2 separate regions of the Homo sapiens genome follow, and region 2 is linked to region 1. The links come from fine-mapping of genetic effects on gene expression. A gene starts in region 1. The other region holds a variant in brackets. All regions are shown on one strand. Distances are from middle to middle. Region 1 holds the start of CFAP45 (cilia and flagella associated protein 45). Region 2 overlaps IGSF9 (immunoglobulin superfamily member 9).

Evidence for each region.
Region 2: its variant is fine-mapped to the expression of CFAP45 in whole blood (TOPMed, PIP above 0.99).

Annotation. Positions count from the first base shown.
Region 1 is chr1:159,897,287-159,902,657 of GRCh38, forward strand. CFAP45 (cilia and flagella associated protein 45) reads right to left here and starts at 2,879. Exons shown (of 12, transcript NM_012337.3): 1 at 2,810-2,879. The coding sequence starts at 2,812. MIR4259 (microRNA 4259) reads right to left here and starts at 2,793; the gene lies at 2,693-2,793. LOC124904435 (a long non-coding RNA gene) reads left to right here and starts at 2,964. Exons shown (of 3, transcript XR_007066679.1): 1 at 2,964-3,527.
Region 2 is chr1:159,933,129-159,938,499 of GRCh38, forward strand. It overlaps IGSF9 (immunoglobulin superfamily member 9), which reads right to left. Exons shown (of 21, transcript NM_001135050.2): 4 at 4,558-4,710; 5 at 3,626-3,780; 6 at 3,271-3,388; 7 at 1,553-1,694; 8 at 1,297-1,442; 9 at 1,062-1,204. Among named protein-coding and RNA genes, the nearest start is that of IGSF9, 9.8 kb to the right of the region's middle. RefSeq lists an enhancer at 1,850-2,350. The variant T/C (reference allele first, on the strand shown) is at 2,426.

The DNA of each region.
Region 1 (5,371 bases):
TACATAAGTATTCTTGGCCAGGCATGGTGGCTCACGCCTGTAATCCCAGCACTTTGGGAGGCCAAAGTGGGTGGATCACCTGAGGTCAGGAATTTGAGACCAGCCTGTCCAACATGGTGAAACTCGTCTCTACAAAAAATACAAAAATTAGCTGGGCATGGTGGCACACGCCTGTAGTCCCAGCTACTCAGGAGGCTGAGGCAGGAGAATCGCTTGAACCTGGGAGGTGGAGGTTGCAGTGAGCTGAGATCACGCCACTGCACTCCAGCCTAGGCGACAGAGCAAGACTCCATCTCAAAAAGAAAAAGAAATGTAGAAGTACTCTTGTAAAGATGTTTGTATGGCAGGTATGTGCCCAGAATGTATTACTGAAAGCATGTTCAAAAAAATGTTTAACAGTATGTCAGGAACCTTTACCATCTTAAGATGTTTCTTTATTGAATAATTTCCTGCAATGAGTAGATACCAATTTTATGACCAGAAAAAAAAAACAATAAAACAATTTTTATTTGAAAACAAAGCATAGCAATGGGCCTGGTGCCCGAACTCTGAAAGCAAGAGAGTACAGACCTAAAAAAGAAAACAAACAAACAAACAAACAAAAAAACCATAGCATTATATATTCTGGGATCCAGAATGTTTCACTCAAATTCAGCAAGACAAAGCTGGAATGGGGCTAGAATAGGTCAGTGTGAAGTTTCCCTGATGTAACTTCAACACCTGTCAACTAAACAGGTTGACATGTTCAGGAAAGATATGTCTTTTCCTAGATGTCTTACCCATTCTGAGATCTAGTTCTTCTTTTGCACAGTCTCCGCAGGCTGGCAAATTCAGGCTTCAAACTCTTGGCCTGGTTCTACTTCCCTTTCTGTAGACTTTGGTTACCAAGAAAGGGAGATTCCCATGCACGAGACCCCTTGCCTTTTACTCTGAGTGATCCACGCAATTATCCTCTTTCTTCAATTGGGACCAAGTTGGCCATCTGTAGGATGCCACCAGAAGATAACATCCTAGTCAGTACTGAGGTCCCCATCTCTCCTTCTGCAGGATTTTAATCATTATTTTTGTAAGAGTTCTGGAAGTCTGCCTAATTGTGACCCTCACCACCACTACTATCTCTTCTCATGCCTTTAAATATTCTCCAAACCTAGTGAGTAGCACTATACGTACACGAACACACACAGCTGGCCTGCCAGAGATCACTAACTTAGACCCACTGCTTCTCAAAGGTGTCTATATGCCCAGTCCTGTCCCAGGAATTACAGAGGGGCTCAGTGAGTGAGTCAAACCCCTGCCCTGAGTGGCTCCTGGATGGGGAATCCCTGATCTGGGTGCTCTGAAGCCCACAGGTCTTGCCCAGGTGCAACTTATGCCCTATGAGAGCTTGGAAATAGGAAATTTTTAAAAGAGGACAAAAGGGGAACTAACATTTACCATATGCCCTTAGACACCAGGCATGACAGTAGGTGTTCACATACATACATACGCCACTGTGTTTGTAAGGTGCTGAGAGAAGATGGGACACTGAATCAAATAGAATACATAAGTGAAAGGGGACGCTCCCCCACCCCAATTACAACACTGCAGGGAGTCCTCGAAAGTCAGGAACTGCTCTTTGTTGGAGACTTATTTAATAATTAACAAAATTCTTCTGAGGTCCACTGAGCCCCAGAAAAGCAATGCAGCCCCTGGGCCTGAAGTCTGTCCACAAGTACATCCAAGTAGCAACCTTTGCCACCTGTTGTGCCCCAGACATTCTAGGTCAGTTCCAATAACCCAAGACTCCAACACTTATCATCTGCCCTTCCCCTCCCCTCTGGGACCAACACACTCAAGCCCAGGCATCCCCTTCATGGTTCCTCCCAGGCTTTGCTGGCCTTCTCAGCCCTCAGTACCCTGACAGCCCTCCCCATCCCAGCAAACCCCAGGCTGCCAGTCCTGTCCCAATCTCTCTCCCGGGCCTTGCAAACCTGAGACCCTCCTCACTCACTCACTCATTTATTCATTCATTCATTCACTGCCAAATATTTATTGACTAACTACTGAGGGATACAAAGCCCTGCTAACAGAAGAAAAACCTGAGGCTCGGGCACATTAGATGACTTACCCACAGTCACCTTGCTAGTTAGTGGCAAAACAGGTACCACGACCCATTATCTGGCCTCCTCACCAGTGCTTTTTTTTTTTTTTTTTTTTTTTGAGACGGAGTCTCGCTGTGTCGCCCAGGCTGGAGTGCAGTGGCGCGATCTCGGCTCACTGCAAGCTCCGCCTCCCGGGTTCACGCCATTCTCCTGCCTCAGCCTCCCGAGTAGCTGGGACTACAGGCGCCCGCCACCACGCCCGGCTAATTTTTTGTATTTTTAGTAGAGGCGGGGTTTCACTGTGTTAGCCAGGATGGTCTCGATCTCCTGACCTCATGATCCGCCCGCCTCTGCCTCCCAAAGTGCTGGGATTACAGGCGTAAGCCACCGCGCCCGGCCCACCAGTGCTTTTTCCCACACCACATCCACAATCTTTGGTCCACAGAGGCCCCGCTGTAATGGCAACGGGGAGAGGGTTGGGGCATCCCTTTCTCCCCAACTCCTCCGCTCAGCGCGCTCCACATTTCCAATCGTTATCGATGCTATCCCTAATTCCTCTTTTGAACCCACCTCAGGATCTCCCTTGCTTCTTCTAGAGGTGTTCTCCTTACTCCTGGGCCCTCCTGACCCCTAGACCCAACTGTGACCTCCCCTAGGCCCCCACTTTCCCCACTCAGAGCCCCCACCCAATTCAGGACACAAGGGGCCCATCTGAGGTTCTCCCTCACCATCTCCTCAGCCACACGCCCTGACTCCGGACTTCTGCTGCCGCCTCGGCGCCGCCAAGGCCCTAGTGTTGACGCGTTACCTTGGCAACCACTAGCCCGCGTTCTTCGGCTCAGGCCCCGCCCCCGGCCCCGCCCCTCCCACCTCCAGCGGGCAGTTGCCTTGTGCTGGTGGCTTAGGAACCGGAGCCCGTCGCTCCAACCGTTGCAGCTCCACGCTCCAGCCCAACCGCGGCTCTGAAGGATTGACCCGCCCTGGCGTGCCCTGCTCTCCACTTTGGCTTTGGCCAAACTTTTCGGTCAGAACCCGAACCTAAAGAACTTACTATGGGCCGAGGGGGTTCTAACTGTCAGCGGCCCCAGGAGCCTGGCCCAGGGTCACAGTTTTCCCCTGGGACTTCACCTAGGTTGCTATGATTACTCTTGCCCCATTGCCCAGGAGGCGCCAAGCCAACCCCTGATGAGTGTAGTCTGCAGAGAAGCCAGCAGGATCAGGACAAACCAGTTCCACAGCAGGAGAGAATCTGGTCGGGTCAACAAAGAACTTCCAGCCCTGAGGATGTCTATGCAGTCTCAAGAGCAGTTTCTTAAATTGCGGGCCTCAAATCTGCAGCTAAGAATCACCTGGGAGAGTTTATTAAAAATGGAGGCCCTACATTAGAATAAGTCAAAAGCTAAGGAACTGACTTTGGGGAGCTTGTCTTTTAACACTTCCTAGCTGGTATGTATTGTTCTAGAAAGTACATAGGGGTTTTGTCATTTTTTCCAATTTGGTTTGGCCTCTCTACCTCCCAACTTGCAGGGCTGGCACTGAGCTCACTTTGGTAGGCTGCATGCTCCAAGCCTCACGAAGCTGTCCCACCAGACCAAGGACATTTGTCTTCCTCCAGTGCTGATTAGCTGATTAGCTAAGCTCTTGGTGTGACTCTGTGAGTCTCTGAGCTGCTTTCTCAAACCTCTCTCCAAACCCTCACAGCCAGTCTTTCTGAAGCTCTTACTCCAACTTGGGCACTGAAGGCTATTCACAAGCCCCGGGGGAATGGAAAGAGGGAGACAAGGTCACTTCTTGCTGCTTTTAAAAGGACTTACTCCAACAGGCTTCACATTCCTTCCCTAGATTTCCCAGCCTTTATCTCCTTTGGGATCAAGAGTACAAAATTGTGTCCCCTGCCCAGTCCCACCAAGTGTTGAAGGCTTAATCAGAGGGAGAAGGGAAGGCCTGAAGAGGAGGAGCACAGTCCCTGGGAGGCTTGGGACTGAGAGAAGGGGCTGTTTTGTTCGTGGGAACCTTCCTTACTAAGCCTTGGCATTAGAACCCCGTTCCCTGCAGCTCAGAAAGAAGGGAAGACAAGTAACCGGCCCACTGTGAATAAGGTGCTTCCTGTATTCACCCCATTCTCCCAGGCACATCTGCATGACATAGTTACTATCCGTGTAACCAAAGAGGAAACAAGCCAAGAAAAAACTGTCCAAATTGAAAATCTATTCTTTTCTCAGCCCAGGGTAACTCTCTGAAGAAAAGGTGCAAAGTTGAGGCAGAAAGGGCTGGGCGCGGTGGCTCATGCCTGTAATCCCAGCACTTTGGGAGGCCAAGGTGGGCAGATCACGAGGTCAGGAGTTCGAGACCAGCCTGGCCGACATAGTGAAACCCCGTCTCTACTAAAAATACAAAAAATTAGCCGGGGGTGGTGGCAGGCACCTGTAATCCCAGCTACTCAGGAGGCTCAGGCAGGAGAATCACTTGAAGCCAGGAGGGGGAGATTGCAGTGAGCCAAGATCACTCCAGCCCAGGCAACAATGCAAGACTCTGTCTCAAAGAAAAATTAAAAAAGTTATGGCAGGAAGGAGGGAATGACAGAGTGCAGTGTAAGGGACTTGCCTCCCAGCAGGCAATTACATGCCTGTAATCCCAGTACTTTGGGAGCCCAAGGCAGGAGGATTGCTTACATCCAGGAGTTTGAGACCAGCCTGGGCAACATAGGGAGATCCCATCTCTACAAAAAATCAAAAATTAGCCAGGCATAGTGGTACATGCCAGTGGTCCCAGCTACTTGGGAGGCTGCACTAGGAGGGTCACTTGAGCCTCGGAGGTTGAGGCTGCTCTGAGCCATGATCGTGCCAATGCACCCAGCCTGGGTGACAAGAGTGAGACCCTGTCTTGAAAAATAAAATAAATAAAATACAATAAAAATTTATCTCAAAGCTAACAATGCTTAAGCTTCAGGCCTCTCATTTACGTAAGCACATGTCAAGGCTCAGAGAAGAACCCTTGGCCATGTGTCTACAGGCATACCTTGGAGATACTGCAGATTAGGCTTCAGAGCACTGCAATAAAACTAATATCACAATACAATGTGAGCAACACAAATTATTTGGTTTCCCAGTGCATAGGAAAGTTACATTTGCACTATACTGTAGTCTATCAGGTGTGCAATGGCATTATGTCTAAAAAAATGTGCATACCTTAATTTAAATATACTTTGTTGCTAAAAAGTGCTAACAATCATCTGAGTCTTCAGAGAGAGTCATCATCTTTCTGCTGGTGGAGGGTCTTGCCTCAGTGTT
Region 2 (5,371 bases), 36 kb after region 1:
TGTCAGAGCATGAGCCCATTCATCTTCATGTCCTCTGTAAATCAGACTCCATAACTCTCACCTGGGCCATTTCAGCAGCTTCAGAACCCCTCTTCCTATGTCCAGTATCTCCCGCTACATTCCACTGGGCAAGCTCAACCCCTGATCACAGCTCTGATCCTATCACACCAATGCTCAACAAATTCCAGTGGCTCCAACTGCCTGTAGACTTTTTTCTTAAATATTCAACAAAGATATACTGAGTACTATTGTTGTAGAAGCCCCAGGTACACTATGATGAAAAGATGCAATACTAGGCCTCAAAAATTTATAGTCTCTGCAGACAAAAGATCCCAATTGCCTTGGAATGAGGCAATAGTAACTTGGCATCCAGTTCTTCCTTTTGATGCTAACCTGTCTTTCCAGCTTTCTCTGCACCATTCATGTCCCTGCAGGCACTCCGGCTCCCACCCAATTGGACGATCCATGATTCCATAAACGTACTATACTACTTCCTGCCTCTTGACCCTGGTTTCTGCAAGGGAATGACTGTGTCCTCTTTGAGGCCCATCACCAAAGTCCCAGAATCTGTTGCTGGTCTATCCTCAACCACCCTAAGAGGAAGGCACGAGCTCCATCCCTGGCCTTCCAGACAGTGTTGCTGTCCTCTGCCCAGATGGTGCCCACTTTAAGGATGGATGCCTCCTTGCCCCTGCCCTCAACCCACTACCCCACACAGCACCTGGTAAGAAGTGTGTGTTCCCCCGGGACACACAATTTCCCAGTCATCACACGAAAGAAACTTCAGTTCTCCTTCTTGACTCTTTGCCATCATTTTCCCCAGAGATCATCTCTCTTCTTTCCCCAAAGAAGACACAAAACCACCACTTTAAACCATGGAAATTTTTCCTCAGGGGTTTTAAGTAGTTTCCTATGCAACATGTCTTATAACACAAATTAAATTCACAAAAGATGTGTGTCCCCAGTCACTGAACTGAATTAAACCGAGCTAACTCCACCCTGCTGTCCTGAGCAGAATAACGCCAAGCTAAGACCCTCCTTCCCCTGCCCCAAGCCTGTACCTTGTCCAGCTGCAGGGCCTTTCCATCCTTGGTCCAGCTGACAAAGAGCAGTGGGGGGTTGGCACGAACCGGGCAGCGGATCACCCCCGGCATGCCTATGGGCAGGGGTGTCTCAGGAGGCATAGCTGTCACCTGGGCTGGGTCTGGGGGAAAGTAGTGGCAAGTTGGGGGAGAGGGGCTTGGCCTGGCCCAGGGGAAGGGAGCAGGCTGAGGGAGAAGCTGGGGTCAGGCTTACAGAGCACAGTGAGGTAGGCAGAGGCTGAGGGTGGATGCAGGAGGCCATTGCTGGGCACACAGGTGTAGCAGCCGGCATCATCAGGCTGGGTGGCCAGCAGCCGCAGGCTCCCGTCCACCAGGATCCGCACCCGGGGCTGCAGGCGGCTGCAATGTGGCATGTGTGAGGAGGGGTCCAGGCCTTGCCCAGCCAAGCGGCTCTTCAGAGACTGTTTGTGAATTCCCCACCTCCACCTTCCTAATGAGGGTGACCCCACCTAATGTGGAAGACATTGATGTTGTCCTGGAACCAGCTGTAGGTGAGGTTAGCAGGGTATGCCTCAGCATGGCAGGCCAATGAAACATCCTGGGAGGCATTGACTGTGCTGTTCTTGGGGGGCACCACGATGACTGGGGGTCCTGTGGGATGCACAAGGGGAGGAAGGTGGCCTCAGCCCACAGTCTTCCCAGAACCCTGAGGTCACCTCTACAACTCTTCCCAGCTCTGCTCTCTGGAATCTTAGGGCTCGTTGTTACAGGGCTTTGGGGAGTGGAAGCAGAAGCTTCCCCCTGTATGTAACAAGAATTCATCCTCTCCCTGAGACCCATTCTTCTTTCCAAATTCTCTCTGTTCCATCAAGAGCAACTCCATTCATGCAGTTCCACTGCCTAGGAATGGTGTGTGTGTTTGGGGGAGTCAGTTTAACTCTGCTCATTTACCATTTGTATCCCTGCTTGTCACCTCTTGAATTACTTCTCTGTCTCTGGCCCTAACCCAGGTGCCCAATACCTCACCTCAAGATGCTGCAGCAGCCCCTGACTCCAGGCTCCCCTGCAGCTGCCACTCTAATGGCCATTCATACAGAAACAGCCCCTTGAGCCACAGAACACTTCTGCTCAGGAACCTGCAACAGCACCTGGCTCCTACTACACTAAGCTCAAACCCAGCCCTGTGGACCCCTGCGATCCAAACCCTCCCTACGTGGCCAGCCATCTTTCCATATGTCAGCCCTCATGAACTCTTTCAGGTCAGTATGGGCAGCTGGCTGTCCCCCATCTCCATGCCTTTGCTCCCTGCACCCCCGGTCTGGAATGCCCCTCCCAAGGGCCTGGCCGCGCCACATACCTCCTGCAAAAGCACCTCTGGCTAC[T/C]ACAGTTCCACTACTCCTTCCCCTCTCTGGGCCGGTACCGCATGAGCAGTCAGTAAGAAGAGGTCATGATGCGAGCTGACACAACAGAGCACTGACTGCATGCGGGACACTGAGTGCTAAGCACTTTACCTGCACGACCTCGTTTAATCCTCACCAAAAGCTTTGTGGTGGGAATTGTCTCCATTTTCTAGATGAAGAAGTGAAGGCTCAGAGGCAGAGAGATTGTGAGGTGATTGCCCAAGGACAGCAGGAGAGGCAACATTCATATTAGGCTTCCTGATGCCACAGACGACACCTTTAACCATTACCCGGCACTGCCTTTCTTACAGTACCACGGACAGCAACACTTCCCTGTTTCCCCAATTAGTCTCACTTCCCCACAAAGATAATAGGCTCTATGAAGGCACAGTCCAGGCCTTCTGCTTCTCAGTTTCCCTTCTAAAGGAAGGATCTTGGCCAGGAATTACCATGTGCCAGTGACTGGGCTCAGCTGCACCTAAGTAAATTCTTGTAACACACCTGAGAGGTAGAGATGAGTCTCTTTATAAAGATGAAGAAACTGGGACTCAAGGAGTTAACTGGCTCACAGCCTAACACAAGCACCCATGTCCTTTCCACTATAACACACTACTGGGCACTAAGATCGCTTTGTCTGCTTACTGAGCCTTTTAAAATTAAGGTGCTGGTTTCAGAGCAACAGCCTGCATTGGGAACCCCCTTAGCTTCCACGGGCCCTGCCCTCAGGCACAAATCTCCCTCCTATCTTGCTGTGAACCAATTCAGCCACAGGTCACAGCCCCCTTGCATAGGTAACCCTGGACCCCAGCCCTCCCGCCAGAGAGCACCTAGCACTAGCAGCTGGGTGGCGTGGGTGGCGCTGCCCTCAGTGCTGGAGGCTTGGCAGGTGTAGACCCCAGAGCTGCCTCGCTCTACCCGGCGGATCCGCAGCGTCCCGTTCTGCACCTAGGGAAGGAGTGGGTGAGGAAGAGTCCTTTCCCCTGCCAGCCTCAGATCCTGCACTTCCGAGTTTGGCCAGCAGAGGGAGGCAGCACCCCAGGCTCGGGGCAAACAATGCCAAGCCCTTCTTCTGGCCCATCCTCCAGCCTGGCCTTTGCCTCCTCTGTCCTCTGGCCCCACTGCCAGGCCCCCACCTTCCCTTCACACTCTATATGGCTCACTCTGTCCACCCCCAGGACTCACTTGCACCTGGCCCTGGCCCTGGCCAAGGTCCTTTCCTCGGAGCTTCCACGTCACATGAGGCAGGGGGCTGCCACGGGCCACACAACGCAGGGTCACAGGCTCCAGTTCCTGCACTTCCAACACAGCAGGAGGTGTCTCCTGGAATTGAGGGGGTGCTGCAAGGGAGACAGGCATCAGGGGCCCCAGTGGGGCTGTCAGCCCAAAAAGCAGTGTCCAAGGGCCAGGGAGACCACTCAGGGCTCCAGCCTGCTGCCCACCCACCAGCCCTGCCTCATAGGAGTCCTCAGCCCAGGGCCACCCTGTCTACTGCACCCAGGCCAAATGAGGATTCTGTCAACCCACCCCCACACACTGGCCTGGGGCTGAACCCAGGTTGGATGTCCAGAGCCTGGGGGAGAGCCAAGCCCCCTCAGGAGGAGCACTGTTCTGGGAGTGAGGAGGCCTGGGTCCTAGACTCTGCTCTGCCACTAATCAGTGGCATGACTCAGCCTCACCTATGCAATGGGAATGATTATGACCTCCTTCCTACTTAGGAGTGAGAGATAAATAATAAGGGCTTGGGTGAAAAGGTATTTTGAAAACACAAGGTGCTATATATATGTGAGCTGTGTTTCACTCAGGGCCCAAGAGCCCCTCTCTCCCACCCACTTCCCTGGCCAGGGAAGCAGGAGGGAAGAGAAAGAGGGAGTTCCTGACACCGAGCCTAGAAGGCTGATTGAATTTATATTTGAAGAACTGAAAAGGGCAGGAGTGTGGGGGAGGGGTGAGATGCAACTACTAAGTGAGCAAACAAGGGCTCTCAGGAAGGGTGGGGCATCAGAGCTGTTTGTGGGATGGAAATAGAACTCCCTCTTCCCCTTTCTCCCACCAGCCAGAGATCCCCATCCTCCTCCTCCCCGTCCTTCTCCACCACCTGCCCCCCAGCTTCATACAATTGACTGTCAGATGCACCCAGGAGCCGTTAGCAAAATCGTCTTCAGGGATGTGCTGGTCCAGGAAGAACACGCGGCACTCGTACCAGCCCTGGTCTTCCACCCGGAGACCCTCAATCTGGAGAGAGGCCCCCTTCTGCAGCCGGACTCGTCCTGGGGGAGGAGCCCTGAATCAAGGGTGCTGAAGGAACCCCATGGAAGCCCCAGTCCCCTGGTCACACTGGTAATTCTTAGAGGTAAGAACAGGCTCAGTCTCTCCCAGTTACTCTGAGTGTGGGGTCCAGAGAGACGCAGATGAGGTTGGGGTCATTCAGGACAGGTCCCTCCATTCGGCCCCTCTGACCACTCTTGCCATTCGACAGCTGGGACCCTGTCTAGACAAAGAGAAACCTAGGGGGACAGCAGGTGGACAAAACCTTCCCCTGAACTGCACTCGGTGTCTAGGACTGTTGGGGAAGGAAGTGAAGAGCCAGCATGTAGTCTCCTCTGGACTCTTACAGGATCTGTCCACCTCTGGGCTCTTTATGTAGGGGAAGGTGTGAGCTCCTGGGAGTACTCCTGATAGAGGACTGTTTCCCTGAAAACCTCAGCAGTGTTTGAGGCCCTAGCAGGGGGAACCCAGACCCCGCCTGCCAAAGCCCCTAATCCCTCAGGGCTATTATCAGCAGCCTAAGCGCCTTAGGGTGGCCAGAGTCCAGCCCAGCAAGCAGCAAAGTCAGCAGCCTCCTCGCCCTATCCTCTCCATGCCCCGGGGCACTCCAGTCCCAGCTGGCTGATCACATACACTTCCACAAAGCCACACAACCACAGCACA